7 linked regions of the Homo sapiens genome follow. The protein of the gene in region 1 purifies or fractionates together with the protein of each later gene. This does not show direct contact. Each region holds a gene or a part of one and is shown in the gene's direction. Other genes may lie near its edges.

Region 1 (4,677 bases):
GTAAAATCTTATAAGGGGAAATGAAAAACAGTAGAAATGGGGCTTGGCTTCAGCTCACCCACACTAGAGCATTTTTTTCATGCATTTCCACTCATGACAAACCCACACCACTACCTTACTGCTAATAGTCCTTTTATTTAAAGAATTCCAATGACTGGCCTTAGGAGATAACCAAGGTTGAGAGTGTCCCACCTTGGAGAGGAATGTTGAACAATTGATTCACAGCCTTGTTGCCGCAAACCAGACCATTGGGTGGCCCATTACTCAAGACAACCCTGGCAAACAGATAATGCTGACCTGCATAAACTACCCCTAATTTGTTGTGCTCTTTTAGGAGAGTCAGTCAGGGAATTCTCTCATTCTCTTATGCTGCCTCCCTTATGCTCCGGCATAAGCTCCAATGAAGCCTTGCCTGGAGAAACTCTTTTGGCCTCAGGTCAATTTGCATTGAGAGACCAAGAACCCATGGTCATAACAAAATGAGGTACTGCCCCAGGCAGTTTGTTTTATTGAAGGTACCTGTTGAATCCTAGAGCCTAAACTTTACTTCTCCCAAACCACTTTCTTCATGCATTCAAAACTGGACTTGTTCCACTAAGTCTGCATCTGGTACAGAGACTTCTTGATGTTTACTTAGGCAGTGGCCCATAAGAGTGCTCATTGAAACACCAATCATCATTCATTCATACTTCAATAAATAACTTGTATGGAGAAAAGAGGCTGGGCATGGTGGCTGACGCCTGTGATCCCAGCGCTTTGGGAGGCACACAGGAAGACTGTTTGTGGCCAGGAGTTCAAGACCAGCTTGGGCAATATAGGGAGACTCTATCTCTACAAAAAAATTTAAAAATTAGCCGGGTGTGTGGTGGCACACGGCTGTAGTCCCAGCTACTGGGGAGGCTGAGGTAGGAGGATTGCTTGAACCCAGGAGTTTGAGGCTGCTGTGAGCTATAATCGTGCTACTGCATTCCAGCCTGGGCAACAGAGCGAGACGAGAGAGAGAGAGAAGAAATGTGTGTGTGTGAGAGAAGAGAGAAGAAATGTGTGTGTGTGTGAGAGAGAAGAAATGTGTGTAAGAGAGAGAGGGAAAGGGGGAGGGAGAGAGAGAGAAAGAGAGAGAGAGAGAGAGAGAGATTGATTAACCAAGTCCTGGAAGGCAGCCGTGGTCAGAAGTGGGGTTCTGGAGAGGGTGGGAGGAAAGGAGGTGTGCCTAGATTTGAGGGAGATCAAATTTGGAAGGTAGGCTGCGGTCAGTACACACATTTACCATTGAAAACATTGATGTCACCATTAACATGCTCTCAGAGCTTGAAGACTGCGAAAAAGGTCCGGAGAACTGGCATGACTTTTAAGTATGCACCTTGGGTTTGTTTCTCACTTGCAGCCAGGCAGAGCGTCCTCCTCTAGAGGGAGCAGGGAAAAGAAAAAAAAAAAAAAAAAAAAAAAAAAAAAAATCAGGCGATCGCATTCTGTCTAATTTTGAGCCGCGCCTTTTGCCGTCCGCCATCACGTGCCGGCCCGCTGAGGCCGCGTTGATAGGTGGGGGCGACTGGGCCAGGCGCCGGGGCAGGAAGGGAGGCGGCCGCCGTGCCATTCTTAAAGGCGCCCGAGTGTAGGCGACAGGCCGCTGACGGCCGGAAGGAAAATGGTGAGTTGCCGCTGGGAGGGCGGGGGCCGGAGGGCTGGGCGAGCCGGCCAGCCGGGTTTTCCCGGTTTCCGGAGCCGGCGGCGGCGGGCAGCGCCCAGGAGGGCTCGGCGGCCGCTTCCGCTCCCAGCAGCTGGCCAGTGCCCATAGCTAGAGTACTTGGCCTCTGCCGCCGCCACCACGCCTCAGGGCAGCATCTTCCAGCTGGGCCCGGGGTGGACCCGCCCAGCGGGCCATGGGACTAGGGTGCGGCCACGAGCAGGGGGGTTGGGGAGGCCCCACGCCAGGTCCTTCTGGTTGGAGGGCTTCAGCTTCTGAGCTGTAGGTTGGAGGGAAAGGGGTCTGCCCCATCGGAGGGCTCCCTCAATTCCTGCTTTCCCTGCCAGGGCCGTGGCCAGGTTCCAGGGGTTGGTGGGCCCCGAGCATCTTCCACCTGGCGGCGTTTTGGGGGAGGACTCGAATTCCGATTGAATTCTCTCGGCCTCACCTTAGCTTCTTTCTCTCTGCTCCTTTCCCTAGCTTCCTACAGAGGATTTCTCCTTATCTTTGCTTTCCTATGGCAGTTGGAAACCTTTCGACCCAAAGCTTTGGCACTGGGCCTTAAAGTAATTGTCAATAACTTTAGTTTTGTTGGTTCTGGGGGCTGTGGCTTCTGTTCTTACATGGGATGGACCCCAAGCATAAAAATAAAGTGGAAAATTAAATAAATCGCCATCAAGGATCTTTTGGATCCATCCCATTAGGTTTTAAAATATGGGTAAATTTCATTAGAAACAACAAAACACTGCTCTCTGTGACCATCCACTCAATTCTCAGCCCACTTTCATCGAATAGATCTTGTCATGGTCACTGAATCGAATGGATTCTTTTCAGTTTTCGTCTTCTCTGACCTTTTAGCTGCATTCCAGAGTGTTATACTCTCTTGTTTTTGAAGCATTCTCTTCCTTCATTCTTCCCCTTTGGCTTCTGGGATACAGAGCTCCTCCTACTTCTCCTATTGGTCCATCTGTTTCCCTTTCAGACTATTCTCCTTTCCCTGGACAATGCTCGAAGGAGTCCCAGGTTTCATCCTAATCCTTCATTTTCCATTCTGTATTCTTCATCCTAAACTATGGCTTCAGTTACCATCTATATTCAGATGACTTGTGAATTTACAGCTCAGAAGACCTTGCTTCTGAGATCCAATCCAGATCTGTATGTACTTTTTTTTCTTTGAGTCGGAGTTTCACTCTTGTGGCCCAGGCTGGAGTGCAATGGCGGGATCTCGGCCCATTGCAACCTCCGCCTCCCAGGTTCAAGCAGTTCTCCTGCCTCAGCCTCCCAAGTAGCTGGGATTACAGGCATGTGCCACCACGCCCGGCTAATTTTGTTTTTTTGTTTGTTTGTTTTGAGATGGAGTCTCGCTCTGTCGCGTTGGTTGGAGTGCAGTGGCGCGATCTCCGCTCACTGCAAGCTCCGCCTCCCTGGTTCACGCCGTTCGTTCTCCCGCCTCAGCCTCCCGAGTAGCTGGGACTACAGGCTCCCGCCACCACACCCGGCTAATTTTGTTTTTGTATTTTTAGTACAGACGGGGTTTCACCGTGTTAGCCAGGATGGTCTCGATCTCCTGACCTCGTGATCCACCTGCCTCGGCCTCCCAAAGTGCTGGGATTACAGGCGTGAGCCACCGCGCCCGGCCCTAATTTTGTATTTTTAGTAGAGACGGGGTTTCACCATGTTAGCCAGGATGGTCTCGATCTCCTGACCTCAAGTGATCCACCTGCCCCGGCCTCCCAAAGTGTTGAGATTACAGACGTGAGCTACCGCGCCTGACCCCAGATCTATATATTAATATTTCAATATTTAGTTACCATTCCCCTGGGAAGCTTTTCCTCCACTTGGTCTCCTCAAAGCCACCTCAGTTTGTCCAAAGTAGAACTCATGCCCTTTCTCCTCAAACCTAGTCTTCTGTCTGTTATACAAGACAATCTGTTATACCAGCCAGAAGCCTAGTATATCTGGTAACCCTTTTTTTTGCTTACTCACACCCCACCCCCACCCCCAATATCCAATCTGTCACCACCTCCTTTGTAGTGGTTAAGAGAGTGAGTTAAGATAGGCTGCCTGGGTTGAATCCTGGCTCCACTAGCTATGTAATTGGGGAAAGATACTTAACCTCTCTAAACCTTAGTTTCTTGCAAAATGGGAGTAATAATAGTATCTGTTTCGTGAGATTGTTTTGAACATAAAAGGAAATCTATGTAAAGGATATAACAGTGTTTCTCTCATAGGGTCTGATACATGTTAACTATTATTAGGACTAAATGGGAATTTTTTGCTATTGAGTTGTTTGAGATCCTTGTATATTCTGATTATTAATCCTTTGTTGAGTGGAGAATTTGCAGATATTTTCTCCCATTCTGTAGGTTGTCTCTTCACTCGTTGTTTTCTTTCCTCTCAGAAGCTTTTTAGCTTGATATGATCTCATTTGTCTATTTTGCTTTAGTTGTCTGTGCTTTTGAGGTCTTACTCAAAAAAATCTTTGCCCAGACCAATGTCCTGAAGCAATTGCCCAGTGTTTTCTTCTAGTGGTTGTATAGTTTCAGATCTTACATTTAAGTCTTTAATCCATTTTGATTTGATTTTTGTATATGCTGAGAGTTGGGGTCTGTTTGTTTTTGTTTTTTTGTTTTTGTTTTTGAGATGGAGTCTCGCTCTGTCGCCAGGCTAGAGTGCAGTGGTGCAATCTCGGCTCACTGCAACCTCAGCCTCCCGGGTTCAAGCGATTCTCCTGCCTCAGCCTCCCGAGTAGCTGGGATTACAGACGCTTGCCACCACGCCCAGCTAATTTTTGTATTTTTAGTAGAGACGGGGTTTCACCATGTTAGCCAGGCTGGTCTCGAACTCCTGACCTCATGATCCGCCCGCCTCGGCCTCCCAAAGTGCTGGGATTACAGGCGTGAGCCACTGTGCCCGGCCCGGGGTCTGGTTTTATTCTGCATATAGCTATCTGGTTTTCCCAGCACCATTTATTGGAGAGAGTGTCCTTTCCC
Region 2 (4,026 bases), on another chromosome or scaffold:
CACGCTTTATTGCTGATGGGGCAATCTGATAGAATCAGGATTTTGGGGAAATTCATTTTGAGAGTAATCAAACCATGTCCAGTTAAGATTGCAAGTTGGAATTGAGGATAGGAAAATGGAGGCAGATCTTAGAGGAGATAGGCTGAAGCTGGCTTGCCCCTCCCCAAGGCCGCCTCTTCCTTGATGATTTGGGTTCATCCTTTAAGATTTTAGCTCCAGCCCTACTTCTCCATGACTCCTCTGGACTCCCCAGCCCACTGAGGAGTCTCTTCTGAACTCAGCACTGACTAGCAGCACTGTTCTCAGAGAACACTGGTTTTGATGGGCTCTGAATGTGCTAGCTCCTTGGGGACAGAGTTTTTTGTTTTTTTTTGAGACAGGGTCACACTCTGTTGCCCAAGTTGGAGTGCAGTGGTGCAATCATAGCTCACTGTAGCCTTGACCTCCTGGGCTCAAATGATCCTCCTGCCCCAGCCTCCTGAGTAGACGACAGGTGTGCACCACCATGCCTAGCTGACTTTATTTGTAGAGACAAGGTCTCACTATGTTGCCCATGCTGGCTGGAACTCCTGGGCTCAAGCCATCCTCCTGCCTCAGCCTCCCAAAGTGCTGGGATTTCAGGCATGAGCCACTGCACCCAGCTGGGGACAGAGATTCTTATGTGCCTTTGCCCCCTAGGCTGTGCCCAGCATAGGACCTGGTAGCTGGCATGTGCCTGGTGACTGCTGGTGGGTTACCCAGGAGCTGCCCTCTCTACTCTACCTGTGCAGTTACAGCCTGCCTGCCAGCACCTGCAGGATTTGTGCCATCCTTGCTGGGCTCTGCTTGGTGCCCTCCTGCCTGGCTTGATCAGGAGTGGGTTGTGTTCCCTTCACTTGTGATTTGATGCATTCAGAAAGGCATCTTCCCCAAGAACTGTCCAGCATTACTTCCTGAGCTTGCTCCAGACTGGGCTTCCGAAATGTCGTCACCGTGGATGAGCTGCGGATGGCCTTTCCTCTGCTTGACATGGTGGACCTGGAGCGGCGGCTAAAGACCACGGTAATAAGGAGCATGGGTTGGGCTGTGTCTTCATCCTTCACTCCTCCAGTGCCCTGCATTGGCTGTGTCGCTGACCTTGCAAGCCCTCCTGCAGAGCTGTGATTTGTCCATGCTTCTTTGGAGGCACATCTGGCTAAGGGTTTTGTTCCCTGAATTTATGAGAATGGCCCAGAGGCTGGCTGCGGTGGCTTACACCTGTAATCCCAACGCTTTGGGAGGCTGAAACAGGAGGACTGTTTGAGCCCAGGAGTTCAAGACCAGCCTGGGCAACATAGTGAGACCCCGTCTCTACAAAAAAATTTAAAAAATTGTCCAGGCATGGTGGGTCACACCTGTAATTCCAGCACTTTGGGAGGCCAAGGCGGGTGGATCACCTGAGGTCAGGAGTTCCAGACCAGCCTGGCCAACATGGTGAAACCCCGTCTCTACTAAAAATACAAAAATTAGCTGGGCACAGTGATGGATGCCTATAATCCCAGCTACTCGGGAGGCAGAGGCAGGAGAATAACTTGAACCTGGGAGGCAGAGGTTGCAGTGAGCTGACATCACACCATTGCACTCCAGCCTGGGCAACAGAGCGAGACTCCGTCTCAAAAAAAAAAAAAAAAAAGCCACATATGGTGGCGCATGCCTATAGTCCCAGCTACTCAGGAGGCTGAGGCAGGAGGGTTGCTTGAGCCCAGGCGTTGGAGGCTGCAGTGAGCTGTGATCACTGCACTCCAGTCTTGGCGGCTGAGTGAGACCCTGTCTCAAAAAAAAAAAAGGAAAAAGCCCAGAGAAGCGAACGGCTTTATGCCCTGTCCTCTCTGTATTGCTTATAATTAGCTGGGAACCCGTTTCAGAGCCACAGCATCCCGTCCAACAAGGAGTTCCAGACTTACTGGCTGGCCTTCCCAGTGCTGCCCAGGAGAGCTGGCCATTGTGAAGTTAGCAATCCTGAGGCCCGGCACTGAGCTGCCCTCGGGAGAGGTAGCTTGCTTGCAGAGGAAGCACTGGTCAGTCTGCACATCTGCCCAGGTGCCCTGTGCGCTGGGCTCATTTTTGAGCACTGACTTTGTCCCCTAACTCATCTGATCCCTTGGTGATCCTCTGCAGCATGACTGCCATCTCTTGAGGTGCCCGTTGGCTCACTTTCTCCTCATCGCACCGTCTGTGTATCACATAGCCCAGGTCTTGAGTCAGACCATTCTCACAGTTTGACGACATGCAGTTATAAACAGATAACTTACTTTTTATTTGCTGATATAGCTTAAGTCCTTCCTCCTCCAGCGCTTTCTGATGGAACAGAGCACTTCCTCCCCTGTGAGGGCTTTCTCCCTGACCTGTGCAAGTTCTGTGGAGAACCAGAATGTCAGAGTTGGAACAGATCTCGGAATAGCTCAGAGACAGCCCCACACAGGGGAGTGACCTGTCCCGGGTCACATAGTTGTTTAGTGGCAGAGCCAAGACTACCATGGCCTGGGGATGGAGTGGACCCTCGAGGCTGGTCGAGTGAAGCTGCCTGCTCAAGAACCGACATGAGGAGAAATGGCCCATCAGGCGTGATGCCGCCTTCGTCTCCACGGCCTCACCTTAGCTGCCTGATTTTAGACTCTTGCTTGGCTATATCTTGTGTCCTCTCCCACCAGAGAAAGACAGCTGACCACCCTTCCTCCTGGTGACTTCACCCATGGTGTCCTGCCTGTTCTGTGGCCCCACCTGGCCATTGTCTTTTCGCCTTTCTTGCATCTTTCTCAGTCCTCTCCAGCTTTCCCTTGGCTTGGGCTTGACCACGGGTGTGGGGTCTGTGGAGTGTGTCTCCCCTCCCCTCCCAGCACCCTGGAGGTGGGGTTGTGGTTCTCCTGGAGTGGAAGGCGACTTGTGTTGATAGCCTCTCCTTTGTCTCTCTGCAGCCCCTCCCGAGGAATGACTTCCCCCGCATTGAAGGTAAGAGAGGTCCTCTTTGATGAGTTGTGAGGTCTTTTCTCCGTCTCCTCTCTGGCCCTCAGGCTGTCTCAGTGTGACTGCCTGCAGCCTGGTTCAGCAGCAAGGGGCCTTGGAGTCAGGACACCTGGGCTCTGGTCTGGATCTGCCACTTACCACCTCTGAGACTGTTGTTAGTCTTTCCTTCCCCATGCCACTCACTATTCCAGGAAAACCGTAAGCTTAGAGAATTTTAGTGGTGGAAAGACACCTAGAGGTGATCTAGTCTAGTGTTTCTCAACTTTTAAACCCAGTTCTCCCCTTTTTATACCAAGAACATTGGAATATCCCCTTTATTATCCTGAAGTGAAATTCTTAGGTAATATAACTTCTGTACACACATATTAAAAATTAGTTCAGTATAAAGCCCTAACTGTAATAGGGGGATATAAAAGGAAACATTTTTAGTAAGAAGATAATGTATTTCAGTATGTAGTAGTTATCCAAGAAGTAAAATGGTTGCACTAAACAGAATCACCATGAATGTTAACAGCTACAAATGCAGGCTGATGTGTGTTTATAGGTGTGACAGGCGTGTTTTACCGGTGACTCAGAAATTAGGGGCAGCATTGCCGTTGGTCAAGTGATTTTCCAAAATAGGTAACAGTTCTTGGTAGAGTTTTGAAAAGGCAAAGTACAGTCTTCTCTTGACTTACACGATAGTTGTATTTTTGGAAAAATTGATGTTTATTGAAGCTGTACAAAAATGCTTTGTGATTGTATGTAAAATAGAATCGTTCAAGTAATTCTGAAAAGGTTGTTCACCTGTGTGGATACCAGGATATCAGGTGGGACATTCAAATGTTATGAGGACATGGGAAAGTTTTTTCTTTTTCTTCTTGTTGTTTTGTAGAGACGGGCTCTCACTATGTTGCCCAGGCTGGTCTCAAACTCCTGAGCTCAAGCAATCCTACCACCTTGGCCTCCCAAAGTGCTGGAATTACAGACACAAGCCACCGCACGCAGCCATGGGATGGTTTTTTTAAAAATTAATTTTAGTGTGGGATAGTTTTTGATTGCACA
Region 3 (4,026 bases), on another chromosome or scaffold:
AGAGAAAATAAGTGGGAAAAATTTTTATTGAAGACACTCCTCTCCTTAGAATAAAGTGGTAGGGGAAAGGAGAGAGAAGCAAGCTGCTGCCTCAGTATTGCTAAGAAAAAAAGAGACTAATCTATTCCATCAATTATAGAACCATCAAGTAGAAATACCTTAATGGTCAACTAGTTCTCTGATACTTCACTGCAACAATCCCTGTCTCCCAAAGCAGTTATCCTGTAACAGGGAGTCTTAACATCCTTAATTGAATAATTGTGACATTTTCTTAAATGATCAACCAAAATTCCTTCCTGGTTGCTTCCACACATTGATCCTAGTTCAACTTTTTGTGATAAACAGAATAAATCCAATTTAGTTACTTCAGCAAGACAGCCCTTTCAATATTTGAAGATAGCTATGAGCTGTCTCCCAAACCCTCACGTACAAGTGCATTTTATCCATCTCCCTGATAAATACCCTTTAGTTCCTTCAACTCGTTTTCTTATTACATGGATTTTAATCCTTGGTGCTATGTAGATGCATCATTTTGTTTAAATCTCACTTAAATGTTGATCGTCAGAACTGAACACAATACTATTTTTGGTGCGGTTTGATGAATGCAGACTTTAGTGAAAGTGTCATTTCCTTGGCCCTAAATACTTAATAGTTCCTTAATAATTCATCAGCTTTCCAGGGGTAGTCATATCACATAGTTCAAATTGGGCTTAGTGTCAACAAAAAACCCTTGGAGGTTCTTTTTGCCACGTATCGTTGCTTAAGCCACCTCTTCTTAAGCAACAAAGTACACAAAATAATGTACTTTGCAGAATACTTTCTAGATATGATCAAATTTTATCTTGTTAGATTGGAGCAATTGCTTCAGTCTCTTAAGACCTTTTTGAATGTTATTTCTATAATCCAAAGGTTTTAAGTTTCTCTCCAAGTTTTGTGTGATGCTGAAATTTAATTAGCTAATTTTTTGTATCTTTAAGTCATGATTAAATATGAACCAGTACAGAGCTTGAATCAGAGCTGTATCACATGGCCATAAGAACCTTCATCTGGGTCAATATCAGTCCTTTTGTTAATCCGCGCTTTTGGAGAACACTCATTCAGTTTGTCTGGAATACTCCTAAAAGTGCTATTATACAGCCCATATTTCTTCATTCTGTCCTTAAAAATTTTTCTGAAAGTCTTTGCTTAACTGCTTTTCTCAGCTGTTCTCATGACTTAGTCATCTTGGTCCTTTTCTGTGAATTCAATTTTAAAATTCTTGATTATTTTTATTTTTTTTCTTAAATTGACTCTTTTATTGTAGCAAATGAATGAAAAATTCATTTATTCTACCCCTCCTTTTTGGGAATGGAGGCCATAATTTTTTTTATCTCAAATTCATCTAAATGCTAATAAAAATTATGTATTTTGTTAAAATTGGTAAAAAATATAGGAGGTAAACAATGGAAACAAATGATGTGCTGCATGGAGCTCATTTCACTCTGCTGAATTCTAAAGTATGCAGTAAAATATTTTAAGTAATTTCAGTGTCTTTTAGGATTTCCCATACTCCCTTGTCAATTAAATATTATTTCTGTTCTTACATTTTGTCTTACATTTTTAAAAAATAAAGTAAAAAATAAGGAAGCTTTTAAATATTTAGTTATAAGATACTGTATAATATGTGCATAAGATTTACAACTGAAGCAAAACTGTACAGGACATATCAAAGGCACAGAATATTGTCACTGATAATTCTTTAGGCACCCATTGTATTGGACATAAATATGTTTTCTTTGCAATTATACTGTTTCCATGAAATACTTCTTTTAGTGATCAGCATAAAATTGTATAATAATTACCTTTACAATTTTGAGATTTAGTGTATTTCTTAATTTAAGGATGCTACCTTTAGGGCATTATTAATACAACTGTATAAACCAGAATTGTAAACAATGACCAGTGACAATTGCATGAGATGTGAGTAGACTTGGCAGCTCTGTGAGATGTAGGAAGCACATGGTATCAAGCTATATGTCATGAAAAGTAAGGTGTGCAAGGTACACACTCATTGAGAATATCAGACAAAAAATGCCTCTGCTCAATTTTCAAAAATTAGTCTCTCTTTTGAAATTTGTAATGTTATATTAAACTTTAACTCAGTATGTATTGCTCCTAGAGTTATTTGGCTCAGCAGTGTGGAATTTAATTTTGTAAGAAGTTGGGGGAATATACAGAAATAAAATATTAAAATATATTACATTTTCTCTGGTTTGATATCTAAATACAGTGAATATACAAAAAGATAGTTGACTTTTGGACTTTTTAAAGAGGAAATTTCTTAATTATTTGCTCTTGTCCCTTACAGATTGCAGATTTTGGTTTATCAAAGTGGCGCATGATGTCCCTCTCACAGTCACGAAGTAGCAAATCTGCACCAGAAGGAGGGACAATTATCTATATGCCACCTGAAAACTATGAACCTGGACAAAAATCAAGGGCCAGTATCAAGCACGATATATATAGGTAGAGTAAAGTTGCTTCTGCTCAGATTTAACCTTGTCTCAGACACAAAATTAGTCAACCAGAATTTTGAAGCTACATTTTAAACTGTGATTTTTATTCTTCTCTCATAATTGTGGTGAAAATAAACTTGAGGCCCCACGGTGATTAATATTTTTCAAATTAAGGAAATTTAATGATTTGCTTTAAGAAACTTTTACATCCTTTAAGAAATTTTAAAGCATCTCTTCTTATCCTATCAATTTATAATATAATAGTTAAGGATTTTTATCATATGTGACTTGGAAATGCAGAGGGAAACAGTGGTTCCTAACATTTTAGCTTTAGGTTTCTCAACCTGTTCAACCTTTTAGCTTTTGATATCTATATATCTTTTTAGATAAATAGACAAACTCTTAATCACACTGGGGATATTTCTATTTAAAGAATCCCTAATATTTGTATATGTGTGAATTTTTTATACAACAAATCAATGGGTTTGATAAGATCATATTTTCATATTTCAGATGCATATTACTTATAATCTCATAATGCAGTAATAAGCATAACACATTGTTATTGACACTGGTTATTTAACCAGAATAAAAGGAAGATGATTATTTACACAGGTTTAGGAGATGGGGACATTCACCTCATGTATAAGTTACTCTTATCTCTTTTAATATACTAATGAATGCAAAAGCAGACTCTCTAAGTTTGCTCTGAACACATTTTATAGTCCTTTAAATGGCTTTTTGCCATCTTTAATAAATAATTTGTTAATGAATCATTTTAGGAATGAATGCTATATCTCTACCAGAAAACTATATATTTAATTAAATTGCATATTCCTTTTCTTCAAAAGCATTTTAATTTTTGTTATTTCTCATTAAAACCAAAGCCAGCCAATCCATTTTAGTGGCTGCACTAAAACAATTCATACAGTGTCTTTTACATTCACATTGTATGAATATAAGAAACTGTCCTTTTATATTTTGTTTTCTGATATTTTTAATTCATTCTGAATGATGTACTGAGGGGAGGAGAAATGTATTTATAGCTTCCTAAGGTAGAGATCATGTTCTACCCAACAATTCTTAAAGCTGGTTTGATTCTATAAAAATGGGCCAATAAATCTGCCAGTCATTCATTTTGTGAATTTTCCCTTTATGTTCAATTTCAATATTCTCTGTCAGGGAAAAATGAGGAAATATTATTCCTTCATTTGGGTAGGAATTCCCTCTGTACTCCTCGCTCTCCCTGTAACACAAGGTGTTAGTAGTAATAAATTCTATGTGTCCATTTTGAATGCATGGTTAATGTTGGGGTGTGGCAAAATTCTTATATCCTATTTAACCATTTATTCTAATTATAAACTCTATGCAGCTTAACCCTGTAATTGACATCTGAAGTTAAACTGTAGGCAAGATATTTCTACTACCAAAGAAGATAGTGCTGAGAGCAGAAAAAAGGCAGTAGAATAGAGCTCCATGAGACAATTTTTTTCTTGTTCTTTGTTCTTTGTGAAAAATAATATCATTTAAT
Region 4 (4,581 bases), on another chromosome or scaffold:
TCAAGGTATTCTTCAAACCAAATATAAAAATATATATATAATTTCTAATCACTCACTTTTTATACATTTATAAACAGGCAGATACAGATACAGATACAGACACAGGCAGTTATTTGGGTTAAAGAAGCTGGCATTTTCATGGGGTTTAGAAAGGACCGTGTAGTCCATGACATTTACTACCAGGTATCAGAGGAAAAGCATAAGCAGTTCCTTTTCTTGAACATTTGCCTTCTAATTGAATAGGCATTGGAATACACAAAGTAGAGGGTTTTTTTAAAGGATTTGTTCTTTCTTTTATCTACTACAAAATATGAGTATTTCTCAATGATGACAATAATAATTACCATTTATCGAATGTTTATTGTATTCCTGTCTTTGTGCCAACCACCTGACCTCCGTTATCTGAAAAATCTTTCCAACAACCCTATGACATAGATATTGTTATTCTTCATTTACAGGTGAGTAAATGGAGGTTTACATTTGTATGGAACATGTTCTGCTACTTGAGATAATGGGAATAGGAGCCTAGGAGGGCTAAAAGCAAGGAGCCAGCAAGTCTAGACACATTCCAGAGGACATTATGTCAGTCATGCAAGCCCTGCCTCAGCTTTCTTCCCAACCCTCAGCCTTTTTTCCCAACAGTATATAAATAATGTGGTGTTCCTTTCAATACAGGTGTCTCTAATGCTAGTTTGTTCCATTCTTGGTGAAGTTAATTTGAATCACATTTGGTTAGCATGTTTATCAGTTTTTTTCTACTGAGTTTCCTTTTGTGAAGTAAGAACAAATATGTTTATGAATGTAGAGTTAGCTGTGCTAAAATTAAATGAAAAGTCAAGCAAACTACCCAGATAGTTTAAGCCAATCACCCAGGATTTCATGAACCCTTTGAGCCATTTATGTTTCCCTTGAGGGATATTTCACATCTTTTACCTGAGAGTTCTACAGGGCATGCTTTTATTAGTTGAAATGTCACTGAGGGCGAGAGTAATTGTTCAACGGATGTACTTGAACTTGGACATTTAAGAATTAACAGAACGGGCTGGGCGCAGTGGCTCACGCCTGTAATCCCAGCACTTTGGGAGGCCGAGGCGGGAGGATCACGAGGTCAGGAGACCGAGACCTTTCTGGCTAACACGGTGAAATCCTGTCTCTACTAAATCCTGTGTCGGATTAATTCGTTCTACTTGCTATTACCAATAAATAGCATGGGCTCCCAGAGCTATGCCTGGCTAACTCTATCACCTTCAAGGGTTTGCTCAAACTATTCAGCCTACTTTAAGTAAATCAATTTCCAAGGTTACAAAATAAACTTCACGTACATTTTTATGGTTAGGTATTTGCGCGTATTTGGGGGCTCCATAGCTTTCATCCGTTACTCAAAGCGCTTCAGGACGCTAAAAAGGCTCAGAGCTGCTTCGATAAACAAGAAAGAATGCTGCAAGCAAAGGCAGCAGTTTCGCTGTAAAATCCTATTGCTGACAGCCAAGACGGGCGTATTCCCTCGCGACCAGCCTGTGGCGTGGTTGGGGCTCCGGAAGGGCGCGCGCGAGCGCTTTTTTGGGAGGACACCACAGGTGGACGCCTCAGCTGATCGTCCTCCCTCCCGGGGACCCTGCCCCGAGTCGCCGAGTAGCCGCAGAGTCGCCTCCGTCGCCCCGCCGCCCCTGTGTTTCGGACATGGCCGCACGCCTTCTCCGAGGGTCCCTACGCGTCCTGGGCGGCCACCGTGCGCCGCGCCAGCTGCCCGCCGCGCGGTGAGTGCCAGCCGGGACTTCCGCGGCTGCAGGCCGGGAGGCTGTGGGGTGGGGCAGCGAGTCACTCCTGTCGCTGGCTTGAAGCAGGGCGGTGCGCGCGCGGCTGGGAGTGCTCCCCAACTCCGGCGCCGGGCTAGAGCTGGCCTCCTTTCCTGGATCCCGCGGACTGGGTGCAACCAGCATCTGGGCGGAGGAAAAAGGGGTGTCAGCCGTGCCGCCCCGAGAACAGACCGCCGAGCCCACGTCGGGGAAAGCCGAAAGATTTCTCCAGAAGTTCATTCCGGAGCCCCAATCCAACCCGTCTAGTTCAGCGGCCTGCAGTGGGACCCGGGAGCCTGCGTTTTGGGAGGAGGTGGTCACCCCCTGGGCCCGGCTGCAGGAGCGCGGGCTGCGATCTGTGTCCCAGTTCGAGCTGTGAACCCGGCGTTCCCCACGGCTTAGACTCGCCGCGCGGTAGTGAACTTGGGACCCGGACTCAGTGCCCGGGCTGCGGCGCGGACCAGAATTGTCCAGGACAAACTGGGCTAGAAATGACCTGGCGAGGGTTCCATCAAACAAGGAAATTAGCTTTAGATATATCAACAAATCTAACTAAATACAGAGGATTAATGAAGACAGAGTCTAAGTAGTTCAGTGACTACTAAGGTGGTGTTTATAATATGATCAAAAGTTTCAGATACTGTCTGATGCATAAAATCTATTCACTGGGTAAACAAATTGGAAGCATGGAGAATTCATTATTTAATAAGGGTGAAGGAACTGGCAAATTTGCGAATGACAGCATTGGTGTAAGCTACTCTAATTTTATTTGAGAGCTATGAAACAAAATGCCTACTTTTCCTGGGGAGATTTGGGAAGACGTCACTGAGAAGGTGACTTTTCTTTAGGATACATACTTAACTCTTCCTTGGAACATTATAAGACAGTGATCCTCAAACTTTTTTTTTTTTTTTTTTTTTTTTGAGACAGAGTCTCACTCTGTCGCCCAGGCTGGAGTGCAGTGGCGCGATCTTGGCTCACTGCTGCAACCTCCGCCTCCCGTGTTCAAGCAATTCTCCTGCCTCAGCTTTCCTGAGTAGCTGGGACTACAGGCACGCACCACCACACCCGGCTGATCTTTTTAGTAGAGACGGGGGTTTCACCATATTGACCAGGCTGGGCTCAAACTCCTGACCTCGTGATCTGCCCGCCTCGGTCTCCCAAAGTGCTGCCTCAAAACTTTTTGATAACAGGGCTCCCTTATGCTCTTAAACAGGACCTCAAAGGACTTTTGTTTATGTAGGTTATATCTATCCGTCTGTCGTTATCGAAAGGTATCTACATAACTGAGAAACTTTACAGATATTTAGTTTATTTAAAAGTTACAATAAGAAGCTCATTACATGTTAACATAAATAACAGTTTTTATGAAAAATAACTTTTCCTAAACAGAAAAAAAGTGAAAAGAGTGACATTGTTTTACATTTTTACAACTCCCTTAATGTCTGGCATAATAGAAGATAACCAGATAACTATATCTGCTTCTGTTTTATCCATTGGCGTAAGTTAGTTTGATTGAAGCATGGCAAGAAAATCTACCCTCAAATAGAGAACACTGGAAAAAGGGAGACCTGAGAGACCCTCTGAATGGGCTGGGGGGCTACAGTTTTGTTGTAACAGCTTTTTTACCTTTAATGTGCAAAGGAATCACCTGGGAATCTTGTTAAAATACAGCTTCTGATTCAGTGGGTCTGGGATGGGGCCTGAGATTGTGTATTTATAACCAGCTTCTAGGTGTGTGGAAGGTGCTGGTGGAGATTGTCTCCCTTTTAAAATGTAGGAGACTTTAAAAAAACAATAATAGCCTAGCCAATAAGATTAGTTGCAGTTTATTGCCTTAGAGAAAAAAATGCCAATTTTTCCATTACAGATTTCTTCATCTTTAGACTGAGAAATACATGTTGCAATAAACTTGCTGCCAAGTGTTTTGATTTTCTTCCCTCTGCATATTCTCTCTTGACCACCTTTGACTGACCTGAAAGTCTTTATTCGTTTGGCATTTCTTTTGCTTTCCTATGTCTTTATATATTTTACTTAAAAATATTGCAGAGATTTCCTTAACACAGTACAGGCTATTCAATTTTAAGATCCAGTAAGACTCGATTTTAAATTCTGGCTCTATTGTTTACTCATTATGTTGACAAATGATTCGGTGTCTTACAGCCCCAGTTTCCTAATCTCAGCATATTTTTTTCCTGAGGGAAACTCTCAAGTATGGAAAATCTATATGGACAAATACGTGCTTTATAATTTTATCTCTACTAGCAAGAAAAAGGAGCCGATCATTTCCATTATAGGGATAAAGTAGATGTTAGTTTATTTGATGCAACAGGACAATGGTCAAGGTCCCCTGCATGTCCTGGTCCCCTGTTATCTCTTCTTCCTAGAATCTCTGGCCTCATCTACTCTTCTCAGCCCACTCTGGCTACAATTGCCTCCTTGCTCTTTCTAGAACACATCAGACACCATTCAGACATACAGCCTTTGCTCTAGTTGTTCTTTTGTCCTAAAATTCTTTTATTCTAGAGGTATGCCTGGCTAACTCTATCACCTTCAAGGGTTTGCTCAAATCTCACCTTTCTGGTTTAACCTACCCTGACTGCAGCACTTTTTTTTCTTTTCCTTTTTTTTTTTTTTTTGTTTGTTTGTTTGTTTTTAGTGACAAGGCTCACTATGTTGCCCAGACTGGTTTCAAACTCCTCAGCTCAAGCAATCCTCAGGCCTCGGCCTCCCAAAGTGCTGGGATTACAGGTGTGAGCCACCAAGCCCCGCCTACTACATTATT
Region 5 (4,026 bases), on another chromosome or scaffold:
TGAAGGTCAGTTGAAATAGTTTGGGCCAGGCATGTGGCTATGCCTGTAATACCAGTGTTTTGGGAGACTGAGGCAGGAGGATAGCTTGAGGCCAGGAATTCAAGACCAGCCTGGGCAACTTAGTGAGACCTTGTCTCTCAAAATTCTTTTTTTTAAATCAGCCAGGCCTGGGCACAGTGGCTCACACCTGTAATCCCAGCACTTTGGGAGGCCAAGGTGGGAGGATCACTTGAGCCCAGAAGTTTAAGACCAGCCTGGGCAACACAGGGAGACCCTGTCTCTACAAAATTTTTTAAAAATTCCAGGCATGGTGGCACGTGCCTGTGGGTCCAGCATCTTGGGAGGCTGAGGTGGGAGGATTGCTTGAGCCCAGGAGATCAAGGCTGCAGTGAGCTGTGATCACACCATCATACTTCAGTCTGGGTGACAGAGTAAGACCCCATCTCAAAAAAAAAAAAAAAAATTCAGCTGGGTATGGTGACACACACCTGTAGTCCCAGCTGCTTAGGAGGCTGAGGCAGAAGGATCACTTGAGCTCAGAAGTTTAAGGCTGTAGTGAAGTATAATTGCACCACTGCACTCTGGCATGGGCAACATTGTGAGACCCTGTCTCTAAAAAAAAAAAAGAAATAGTTTGTTTTACCTATAATATTTTAATTCTACCCTTCTGTTGTCATAGGCATAAGTTATTTATCTGTGACATAGAGAAATTCTATTGAGTTACAGAAAATACTTAATGTTTCTAATCAATATATTAGTATTTTGGGATTAAAAAATAGGGTGAGATGAGCTACCACATGAAATGAGGGAAACTAACTAATAGACATATTAAATTTGTATTATTTTGTCGTCTCAGACTCGATGTTTTCTTTAAAGAGTTCCATTGTAATTTATAGACTGGGCTATATTTATGTTTGTCTTGAATGAAATAATTTGTAGAATTTGGGGCATGTTGTTTTCTTTCCCACTCTAAAGCACATCCAAATCCATAATGGCTGCTGCTGGAGTACCTGTTGTGGAGGGTTATCATGGTGAGGACCAATCAGACCAGTGCCTGAAGGAACACGCCAGGAGAATTGGCTATCCTGTCATGATTAAAGCCGTCCGGGGTGGAGGAGGAAAAGTAAGATTGTGCATGCTTGTGTTTGCCAATTCAGGCTTGTCTTCTTTGTTTTATTTATGTTGTAGTCATAATCATCTTTTCTCTCTTAGGGAATGAGGATTGTTAGATCAGAACAAGAATTTCAAGAACAGTTAGAGTCAGCACGGAGAGAAGCTAAGAAGTCTTTCAATGATGATGCTATGCTGATCGAGAAGTTTGTAGACACACCGAGGTGGGTTGGCCTTATTTTTCTGACTCAGAGTTTAAAAATTAAATTATAAAAATAATGCATGCACATTCTATAAAATATAAAACTGTAGTAGTATATAAGTATATTATTACAAGTTTCCCAGTTCTGTCCTGTGATGTAACCACTGATTGTAGGATGGTATGCATTCTTCCAGCCATTTTCTATGTGAATAGAAACCTATATACATATACATACAGCAAACAAAATACATACCTAAGAACAGTGAATAGAATTTTTTTTTTTTTTTGGACGGAGTCTCTCATTCAGTTGCCCAGGCTGGAGTGCAGTGGCACGATCTCGGCTCATTGCAACCTCTGCCTCCCGAGTTCAAGCGATTGTCCTGCCTCAGCCTCCTAAGTAGCTGGAATTACAGGTATGCCCCACCATGCCTGGCTAATTTTTGTGTTTTTAGTAGAGATGGGGTTTTCCCATGTTGGTCAGGCAGGTCTCAAACTCCTGACCTCGTGATCCACCTGCCTCAGCCTCCCAAAGTGCTGGGATTACAGGCGTGAGCCACTGTGCCCGGCCAGTGAATAGAATCTTATACACTAATATTATATCACAGACATCTTTCCATGTCAGTAATTGTAGATCAGCCTCATTCTTTTTGTTGGTGACCTAGCGGTTCTATGATCTTGATATACCATTAATTCATTCAGTATGTTTCTTGTTGATGAAATTTAGGGTTTTTTTTCAATATTAGCAAATTATTGTAATAAATTCAGCTATATTTATAGAACTCTGTCAGTTGAGATGCTCAGGAAATGGAAGTAATTTTCTAAATTGAATTACAAGTGATATGCTGTTAATAGGAGCTAACACTTACATTGCACTTACCATGTGCCAGATTTTAAATATTTTACACATGCTAAATAATCTTGCTGTCCTTCTAATTCTAATATAATTCTTACAACAACCTCATTAGGTAAGTACTGTTTTCATTTTACAGGTGAGGACACTAAGCAACAGAATGGTTGTGTTGTGTTACTTTTCTGAGGTCACTCAGCTGTTAAGTAGTAAAGCTGAGATTTGAACCCAGGCACTTTGACTCCAGAGTTCATATCTAAGCCACTGCACTAAGCTACTTCTCTGGGTACCACTATAGCAAATGCAGTGTGAATCCCTATTTTTTTTTCTGGAATTTTATTTTCATGTTTGTTGTTTAAGATGCTGATTATAAAGTTTCTCATTTCATAGATTTTTATGACAATTGTTAAATTTTATATATATATGTGTGTGACCTGTAAGTCAAGTGAAAAGAATAATTTATTTGGGAACCATGACTGGAAAGAGATTTACCTTGAAGGTAACAGACTTGAAACTTCAGGCCCTTCTTTGACATTAATCTCTTCCAAGACCCTGACCTAATTTTGTATTTGCAGTTTTGTATTCTTCTCCTTAGAGAAGACCCCCAAATTGTTTTTTGTTTCAGGCCCTATAAAACAACTGTCCTGAGCATGGCATAGTAAATGAAATTCAATTAAGGCAAAAAAAAAGGGGGGGGCATTTCTAAGGTACATTGAAGGCTTCCTTTCAAGAAAGAATAGGCTAGCCATCCAAATCAGCATGCTCTTAAGTTAGAATTGTGGAGACATCAATAGCTTATTTCAGTAACTTATTTCAGAGACATCAATAGCTTATTTGAGTTATTATGTAACTCCATGCCTGCAGCATTTTTTGAATATGTAAGTTCTTTACTTATGAAATGTTAGCCATACATTGCGTCACATTATAATTTATTCCCCCAATAGCTGGAAAGCCCCTGGGAATCAAAGACCTGGTAGTATATACATTTTTATTTTTTGTATATATTGCCTGGCATACTACTTTCCTTGTAATAGGCATCAGTAATATTTTTTGAACTATAGAAGTAATATGAATACATTACAAATTTTTGGAAAATGCAGAAGATGGAAAACAACCCATAATTGTATTCTCCTAATTATTATTAATATTCTTATATACAGTCATGTGTTGCTTAATGACAGAGATACATTCTGAGAAATGCATTGTTAGGCAATTTCATTGTTGTGCACACATCATAGAGTGTCCTTACACAAACTGAGATAGTATAGTCAACTACACACCTAAGCTATGGTATAGCCTATTGCTCCTGAGCTACAAACCTGTACAAACGTTACTGTATTGAATACTGTAGGCATTTGTAACACAATGGTAAGTATTTGTGTATCTAAACATCTCAAAACATAGGAAAGGTAATGTATTGTGCTATTATGTCACTAAATGATAGGAATTTTTCAGCTCTATCATAATCTTATGAAATCACCATCCTATATGCAGTCTGGCATTGATGGAATGTCATTGTGTGGCACATTGTGTGACTCTATTTCTATTCTGTATTTCTAGTAATAACTTCTTTTTAATTGAAAGCAAGTTTATTAAGAAAGTAAAGGAATAAAGAATGGCTACTCCATAGACAGAGCAGCCCCAAGGGCTGCTGGTTGCCATTTTTATGGTTATTTCTTGATGATATGCTAAACAAGGGGTGGAGTATTCTTGCCTCCCCTTTTTAGACCATATAGGGTAACTTCCTGACGTTGCCATGGCATTTGCAAACTGTCATGGTGCTGGTGGGAGTGTAGCAGTGAAGACGACCAGAGGTCACTGTTGTTACCATCTTGGTTTTAGTGGGATTTAGCCAACGTCTTTACTG
Region 6 (4,026 bases), on another chromosome or scaffold:
TGCCCCTTCCATGCCCACACCCTTTGCCTGGCCACTTCTTAACCAAGAGGTGGCAAAAGGGGTAACCAAAGCTGCTGGAGGGCAAAAAGTGGAGCCTCAGCCCCGAGCCCCAGGCATATCCTCAAAAAAAGGTGGGCTGACCACATGGGACCTGACAAGGAACATGTATCCTTCTTGCTCTTCCATAAACTGAGCCCAGGCTGGTGCTGGGATCTGACCAAGGATATTGATGGATTTGTGTGCCAGGGATGTATCAGCCTTTCCATATAGAACTCAATGACCCCCTCCTGCACCCCAGCACACCCCAGGCCCTGCATGGGGCGCTTCTCCCAGGGCAGTCAAGTGTGCACTGGGGACAAACACCCCAGGACCCTAGCAGCCACTGACCCTGCCTCCCATGCATCTGCCCTCGCAGGTCCTCATCTGGAACCTGGATGTGGGTGAGCCGGTGAAGATGATTGACTGCCACACGGATGTGATCCTCTGCATGTCCTTCAACACGGACGGCAGCCTGCTCACCACCACGTGCAAGGACAAGAAGCTGCGTGTGATTGAGCCCCGCTCTGGCCGTGTTCTGCAGGTGGAACCCTACATTTTTTGAGATTGAAGGGGAAGGTATTGAGGGCTGGGGCTCAGCTTTCAGCAGGCCTGGAAGAAAAAGGCTGTGCCAGCCCCCTTCTCCAGTGCATCTCACTGCACCTCTGTTGAACAACCTTTCTCTCTCCTGGGCCCTTCTCAGCTCATAGGAACCCTGCCTTGTTCTGGGTGGGGAGGGACCTCATACCCTTTCCTGTCCCCACTGCACCCCCTACCTCCAGACAGGATTCTTCTGGCTTGCTCTGGGGGCTGAACTGGTGACACCCTTCAGTGCATACATCCCCAGGTGTTACCCAGGTCCACCACAGGCACAGGAGGAGGAGACACTGGACTCACTGCCCAGCCACTTGATAGGATGAGCCTGAGGGAAATGGCTAGGGTGCCAAGGCTGATGGTGAACTTAGCTCCACTTTTGGTCTTTGAATCTCCTGGGTCTTGGGTTTGAGGAAGGGGTTAAGTGCCATTTGGAAGTAAGAAATTACCATTTTTTGAGCACCTGCTGTGTGCTGGTCATGGGGAGAGATGGAATGGAAAATATGGATGATATCTGAGGTTTGCCTTCTACACAAGAAGGGATTAATGCTTGATCTGGGTGTGTTTACCTTGGAATAGTCCAATATTACAAGACCAGAAAGTTTTCTAGTACTATAGGTTGAGCATCCCAAATCCAAAAATCCAAAATCCAAAAGACTCCAAATCCAAAACTTTTTGAGCACTGACATAACACCCAAAGGAAATGCTCATTGGAACATTTCAGATTTTGGATTTGGGGATGTGGGAAGCTCAACTAGTAGGTATAATGTGAATATTCTGACATCGGAAACAATCCAAAATCTGAAACACTTCTGGGCCCAAGCACTTCAGATAAGGGCTACTCAACCTGTACCACTACAAATAAGAATAATGAGAGTTGCTTAGCATGATTAGTGTTAACTGACATCTGCTAAGAGCTCACTGTGTGGCCTGCACTGTGCCCGGGGCTCTGCACATCATCTCATTTAATCCTCAGGACAACCCTCTCAGCTGGGTGCTGTTACTCCTCTCATGTGATACGTGAGAACACTTAACCTTAGCGAAGTTGGGAGACTCGAATCTCACAGTTCCAGGAGGAGCTAGGATTCAAACCCAGAGCCCATGCCAAGCAGAAAGAATGTTTATGAACAGAGAACCCCCACCTCCAATTCCCAAATGGGGCCATGAGCCCAGGGAAGGTGAAGGTCTTCTCTTGGGCTACACTTTTTTGGTGGAGCTAGAACTAGAGTTCAGAGTGTGTGACGCCAGCCTGAATATGTGCACTGCCCCATTGGCCTCTTTTCTGACTTGCTGCCAACTTACCTGATGCCGAGGACTGTTGTGTGTTAGGAGGAAATCAAGTGTCACGAGCCAGTGGGCAGGAAAGGAGGCCCAAGACAGCTCAGTTAAGGAGGCACTCCCTGATGAGGCAAGCTGTGAAGCAGTGATGGGCATGAGTCTCTTGTCCTCCTGAGCCTCAGTTTCCTCACCCTCAAAATGGGGATAATGATTTCTTCCGATAGATATTGTTATGGGGATGAAAAGCAATGCCCCTGGTGAGAGCTCCTGAAGTGGTGTAGCCCCCAACTGGACTTGGTGGACGTTGGCTCCCCTCTCGCTCCCTGTTCCCCACATTCTCTGGGAAATGGCAGAGAAGGCATCTGTGGAGCCATTGCTGCACAGTGCTTAGAACAGTGTCCTATGGCTGCTGTAACAAATGCCCACAAACTAGGTGGCTGAAAACAACAGAAATGTATTCTCTCACCATTCCAGAGGCCAGATGTCCCACATCAAGGTGTCAGCAGGACTGTACTCCCTACAGATGCTCTAGGAGAAAACCCATTCCTTGCCTCTTCTGGGGGTTGCCGGCTCCCGTGGCTGGTGGCCACATCACTCCAGTCTCTGCCTCCAGGGTCACACACCTTCTCCCCTGTGTGTCTCTGTAATCTTACCTCTCTCCCACAAGGACACTCATGATGGCATCCAGGATCCACCTGGATAATCCAGGGTAATCTCATCTCCAAATCCTTAGCTTAACCACATCTGCAAGGACCCTTTTCCAAATAAGGAAATAATTGCAGGGGCCAGGGCTGAGGACATGGGTGTATCTTTTCGGGACCACCATTCATGCCACTGCAGAACCCACATGTTGGGGACCCTGGCTCACCACCTCCCTCTGTTCCTACTAGGAGGCCAACTGCAAAAACCACAGAGTGAACCGGGTGGTGTTCCTGGGGAACATGAAGCGGCTCCTCACGACAGGGGTCTCCAGGTGGAACACAAGACAGATTGCCCTCTGGGACCAGGTCAGCCACGGGGAGGCCTGCTGGGTTTGGGCTAAAGGAAGCATCGTTGCCTCGGAGGTCACTTCCTCAGAAAGTCAGGAGCCTGGGCCCGCACACCAGCTTCTCATAGCATTCCCAGTGGAGAAATCAGACAGAGACCCCCAGAGGCCGAGCTTGGGTACAGAGGCTTCAAGGAACAATGTCGGCCACACCTGCAAGATGTTCACCCTCTTTTTCCAGAGTGGGGGCTGAGCTCCAGAGAGATTGAGAGACTTACCTGGGGACACATAGCAAGTAGCAGGTTTGGGGACAATGAGAACAAGTCCCTTGCCTCCTGTTTGTAAGACCCTTTCCACTGCCCCTGGCTGCTTTTCGTGACAAGAAAGTCAGTCTTGCCACCACCCATAGGACGGGCTTTTTAACATCTAGGGGAGGTCTTAACATAAAGTAGTTGCCATCCTAAGAGGCCTTCCTGGGATTTGGGGAGGGGTATGCCATCCTGCCTGCAGAGAGGCTGAGACCAGCTCTTCTCCCTCAGGAGGACCTCTCCATGCCCCTGATCGAAGAGGAAATTGATGGGCTCTCTGGCCTCCTGTTCCCCTTCTATGATGCTGACACCCACATGCTCTACCTGGCTGGAAAGGTAGTAGGAGGTGGGGGAGGGCCCGGGGCAGCCTGTGGGAGAGCCCTACCCTCAATGCACCCCTGCACCTGCCCCACCCCCTGGAGAGTAGCCAGCCTAACCTTCCAAGTTCCTGGGCCTCACCTTTCCCATCCACACCTGCCCTCAAGTCTGACACCCATTCTTACTCAAGTGTCTGCTACCAAGAATTCCTTCAAAGGTGAGCTGGAGCGGGCTTTTACATTGGAATAAAGATCAGAGCCTGCAGTGTAGTCAGTGATGAATGATGGAATTTGAGATACCCGCCAGGAGATCCTTGGTGAATACAGCCTTGTTTGTCAGAAAGGCTGTCTACACACACACACTCACATCAGCCCATCCACCTCCACCTCTCCACCCGCAGTGAGTCCCCTGTGGTGCACCCACTAGGAGCCTAGAAGCCAGGTTTCCTTGGTTTTTTTAACTGCCCATGAGGCACAGGGGAGAGCTGTCTTCAGCTGGCTCCTGGGA
Region 7 (2,891 bases), on another chromosome or scaffold:
TTGAGACCAGCCTGGACAACATGGCAAAACCCATCTCTACAAAAAATACAAAAGTTAGCTGGGTGTGGGGGTATGTGCCTGTAGTCCCAGCTACTCGGGAGGTGGAGAGGTGGGAGGATTGCTTGAGCCCAGAAAGTCGAGGCTGCAGTGAGCCAAAATCGCGCCAGTGCACTCTAGCCTGGGTGACAGAGCAAGACCCTGTCTCCAATACAAACAGAAAAAGGAAGGGAGGTTGGGCAAAGGTGGACTGAGGGTCCACACTGACTGCACCCTCACTCCCACATTGTGCTGGCCCTGGGGCCACAGGTGAATGGACGTGGTCTTTGCCCTTAAGTCAGCACCCATGTAGGGTCAGTCCTCTGTGCTTCCTTATCCAGGGGCTGTGATGATGAAGGAAGGAGAAGGCCAGGGCTATGCTCTGTGATGGCTGTCATCCTGCCTTCCAAAGCTACATGTAATAGACACACTGCTTTGTCCCTCCCCTGCCCCTAGGACGAGCGGGGTTCCGCAGCTGACTCCGAGGAGTCCCCAGCTATTGAGGCAATCCATCTGTTGAGGAAGACCTTCCCCAACCTCCTGGTGGCCTGTGATGTCTGCCTGTGTCCCTACACCTCCCATGGTCACTGCGGTGAGTTCCCTCCCTCCCACCAGCCCTGCTGCCACCCACACTCCTACTGCCCACTTCTCAACAGGGTGGGGACAGGCCAGGGCCCAAGGTGCTCCCCAAAACCCAGTCATCTGTCCTGAAGGGCTCCTGAGTGAAAACGGAGCATTCCGGGCTGAGGAGAGCCGCCAGCGGCTGGCTGAGGTGGCATTGGCGTATGCCAAGGCAGGTGAGTGAACCACCAGCAGGGATGGGCACCTCTGGGTCAGGAGGTGGCAGAGTGGCTAGGAGGGCCCCAGAGTTCTGAAGGCCACCCTCTGCCCCCCAGGATGTCAGGTGGTAGCCCCGTCGGACATGATGGATGGACGCGTGGAAGCCATCAAAGAGGCCCTGATGGCACATGGACTTGGCAACAGGGTAAGGGCAGGGAATGCAGCACAGGGCTGGCAGGAGATAGTCTGCACCAGCCCTGCCCCCGTGTCTGCTAAGAATCACAGAACTGCCGGGCGTGTTGGCTCACACCTGTAGTCCCAGCACTTTGGGAGGCTGAGGCAGGTAGATCACTTGAGGTCAGGGGTTCAAGACCAGCCTGGCCAACATGGTGAAACCCCATCTCTACTAAAAACACAAAAATTAGCTGGGCGTGGTGGCAGGCGCCTGTAATCCCAGCTACTGGGGAGGCTGAGGCAGGAGAATCGCTTGAACCCACGAGGCAGTGAGCTGAGATCATGCCACTGCACTTCAGCCTGGATGACAGAGCTAGACTCCATCTCAAAAAAAAAAAGAATCACAGAACTGAAGACAGTGCTGGATGAGGCTTTGGGGAACCATTTAAACCTCTGGGCCTCTGCAGGGAAATCAAGCCCAGCACTCCAACAGGACCAGAACACAGGCAGTCTCCTTCCCAGCCTAGGTTCTTTCTCTCCCTGCCACATCACCCTGGGATACCTGGCAAGGGCCGAATAAGCCAAGACCTCCATTGTCTCCCCATAGGTATCGGTGATGAGCTACAGTGCCAAATTTGCTTCCTGTTTCTATGGCCCTTTCCGGTGAGCAGGGGTGGGCAGGGGTCTGCTGTGAATCCCTGGCCCTTTGGCCCAAAGCTGGAGCCCACCCTGATGACTCTGCTTTGCAGGGATGCAGCTAAGTCAAGCCCAGCTTTTGGGGACCGCCGCTGCTACCAGCTGCCCCCTGGAGCACGAGGCCTGGCTCTCCGAGCTGTGGTGAGTGACTAGGACTTGAGCCCCACCCTCAGCCCCCTCCTAGGCACCACCCACATTATACCCTCATCCCTTAGGACCGGGATGTACGGGAAGGAGCTGACATGCTCATGGTGAAGCCGGGAATGCCCTACCTGGACATCGTGCGGGAGGTAAAGGACAAGGTGAGCACAGGTACGAGGCAAAGGGGGCTCAGGGGGCTGGGACAGAGTTTTCCACAGACTCTGGAATCTCAGAGTTGGAAGCAGTTTGCCCTTAAGCATGCATCCTCTCCTCCCCTTCCCTGCCCAGGAACCATCGTGGCCTTCTATGTCGGGGCTTGCACGAGCCTCAAACAGCCCTGCTTTAACAGTTCAAGAGTGGGCCAGGCTGCCAGCCGCAGTAACCCAGGACACGGGGCTCAAGATGGTCACAGATTGAGCAGGGGGGAAGGGACGCTTCCAGAGCCACATCCACCCTCCATTTCAGCCTGTCTCCCTGTCTGCTTCCCTGCAGCACCCTGACCTCCCTCTCGCCGTGTACCACGTCTCTGGAGAGTTTGCCATGCTGTGGCATGGAGCCCAGGCCGGGGCATTTGATCTCAAGGCTGCCGTACTGGAGGCCATGACTGCCTTCCGCAGAGCAGGTAGGCAGGCAAGGGTGGGGTGTTTTGACCTGCGCCACAGGGACTGATAAGCACTCTGCCTAGATTGGGGAACGACGTCCTGAGAGCTTGGGATCTTATTCCGGGAATTACTAGTGATCTAAACAGACACACACTGAGGAAGAGATATGGAACTGCAGCATAGAACACGGCCCGGTGAAGCAAGCAGAGCCCTTCATTTTTGGTTGTGAGAACGTGGGCAAGCCACTTCTCTGAACCTCAGTGTCCTCACCCATAACTGGATAACTGGGGATAAGATACCTGGTGCGTGGTTGTCCTGAGGATTAAATGAAGTAATATCACTCCATAAAGGGGACTCATTTTGTTAGAATTGCACACCAGCATGGGAAGGAACTTGCCTCTTACCTATTTCCTTCACTGTGCATTTTATTCTTTGGTAAACTGAGGCCCCAAAAGAGGAAAT

Evidence for each region.
Region 2: the proteins of GMFB (region 1) and HDHD5 purify together in Homo sapiens (co-immunoprecipitation; one large-scale study listed by IntAct). This does not show direct contact.
Region 3: the proteins of GMFB (region 1) and RIPK2 purify together in Homo sapiens (co-immunoprecipitation; one large-scale study listed by IntAct). This does not show direct contact.
Region 4: the proteins of GMFB (region 1) and ACADL purify together in Homo sapiens (affinity purification with mass spectrometry; one large-scale study listed by BioGRID and IntAct). This does not show direct contact.
Region 5: the proteins of GMFB (region 1) and MCCC1 purify together in Homo sapiens (co-immunoprecipitation; one large-scale study listed by IntAct). This does not show direct contact.
Region 6: the proteins of GMFB (region 1) and CORO2B purify together in Homo sapiens (co-immunoprecipitation; one large-scale study listed by IntAct). This does not show direct contact.
Region 7: the proteins of GMFB (region 1) and ALAD purify together in Homo sapiens (affinity purification with mass spectrometry; one large-scale study listed by BioGRID and IntAct). This does not show direct contact.

The regions. Positions count from the first base shown.
Region 1 is NC_000014.9:54,485,896-54,490,572, reverse strand, and holds the start of GMFB (glia maturation factor beta), read left to right. Parts: upstream 1-1,592; 5' UTR 1,593-1,645; coding exon 1,646-1,648; intron 1,649-4,677. UniProt on the Homo sapiens protein: This protein causes differentiation of brain cells, stimulation of neural regeneration, and inhibition of proliferation of tumor cells.
Region 2 is NC_000022.11:17,142,039-17,146,064, reverse strand, and holds part of HDHD5 (haloacid dehalogenase-like hydrolase domain-containing 5 isoform 2 precursor), read left to right. Parts: intron 1-895; exon of another isoform or gene 896-947; coding exon 948-1,041; intron 1,042-2,933; coding exon 2,934-2,967; intron 2,968-3,856; coding exon of another isoform or gene 3,857-3,996; exon of another isoform or gene 3,997-4,026.
Region 3 is NC_000008.11:89,767,425-89,771,450, forward strand, and holds part of RIPK2 (receptor-interacting serine/threonine-protein kinase 2), read left to right. Parts: intron 1-2,347; coding exon 2,348-2,505; intron 2,506-4,026.
Region 4 is NC_000002.12:210,222,363-210,226,943, reverse strand, and holds the start of ACADL (long-chain specific acyl-CoA dehydrogenase, mitochondrial precursor), read left to right. Parts: upstream 1-1,496; 5' UTR 1,497-1,680; coding exon 1,681-1,757; exon of another isoform or gene 1,758-2,531; coding exon of another isoform or gene 2,532-2,545; exon of another isoform or gene 2,546-2,629; intron 2,630-4,581. UniProt on the Homo sapiens protein: Long-chain specific acyl-CoA dehydrogenase is one of the acyl-CoA dehydrogenases that catalyze the first step of mitochondrial fatty acid beta-oxidation, an aerobic process breaking down fatty acids into acetyl-CoA and allowing the production of energy from fats.
Region 5 is NC_000003.12:183,068,307-183,072,332, reverse strand, and holds part of MCCC1 (methylcrotonoyl-CoA carboxylase subunit alpha, mitochondrial isoform 1 precursor), read left to right. Parts: intron 1-975; coding exon 976-1,123; intron 1,124-1,212; coding exon 1,213-1,334; intron 1,335-4,026.
Region 6 is NC_000015.10:68,711,127-68,715,152, forward strand, and holds part of CORO2B (coronin-2B), read left to right. Parts: intron 1-415; coding exon 416-580; intron 581-2,798; coding exon 2,799-2,915; intron 2,916-3,432; coding exon 3,433-3,537; intron 3,538-4,026. UniProt on the Homo sapiens protein: May play a role in the reorganization of neuronal actin structure.
Region 7 is NC_000009.12:113,388,535-113,391,425, reverse strand, and holds part of ALAD (delta-aminolevulinic acid dehydratase), read left to right. Parts: intron 1-492; coding exon 493-628; intron 629-749; coding exon 750-833; intron 834-932; coding exon 933-1,021; intron 1,022-1,597; coding exon 1,598-1,653; intron 1,654-1,739; coding exon 1,740-1,827; intron 1,828-1,901; coding exon 1,902-1,988; intron 1,989-2,319; coding exon 2,320-2,449; intron 2,450-2,891.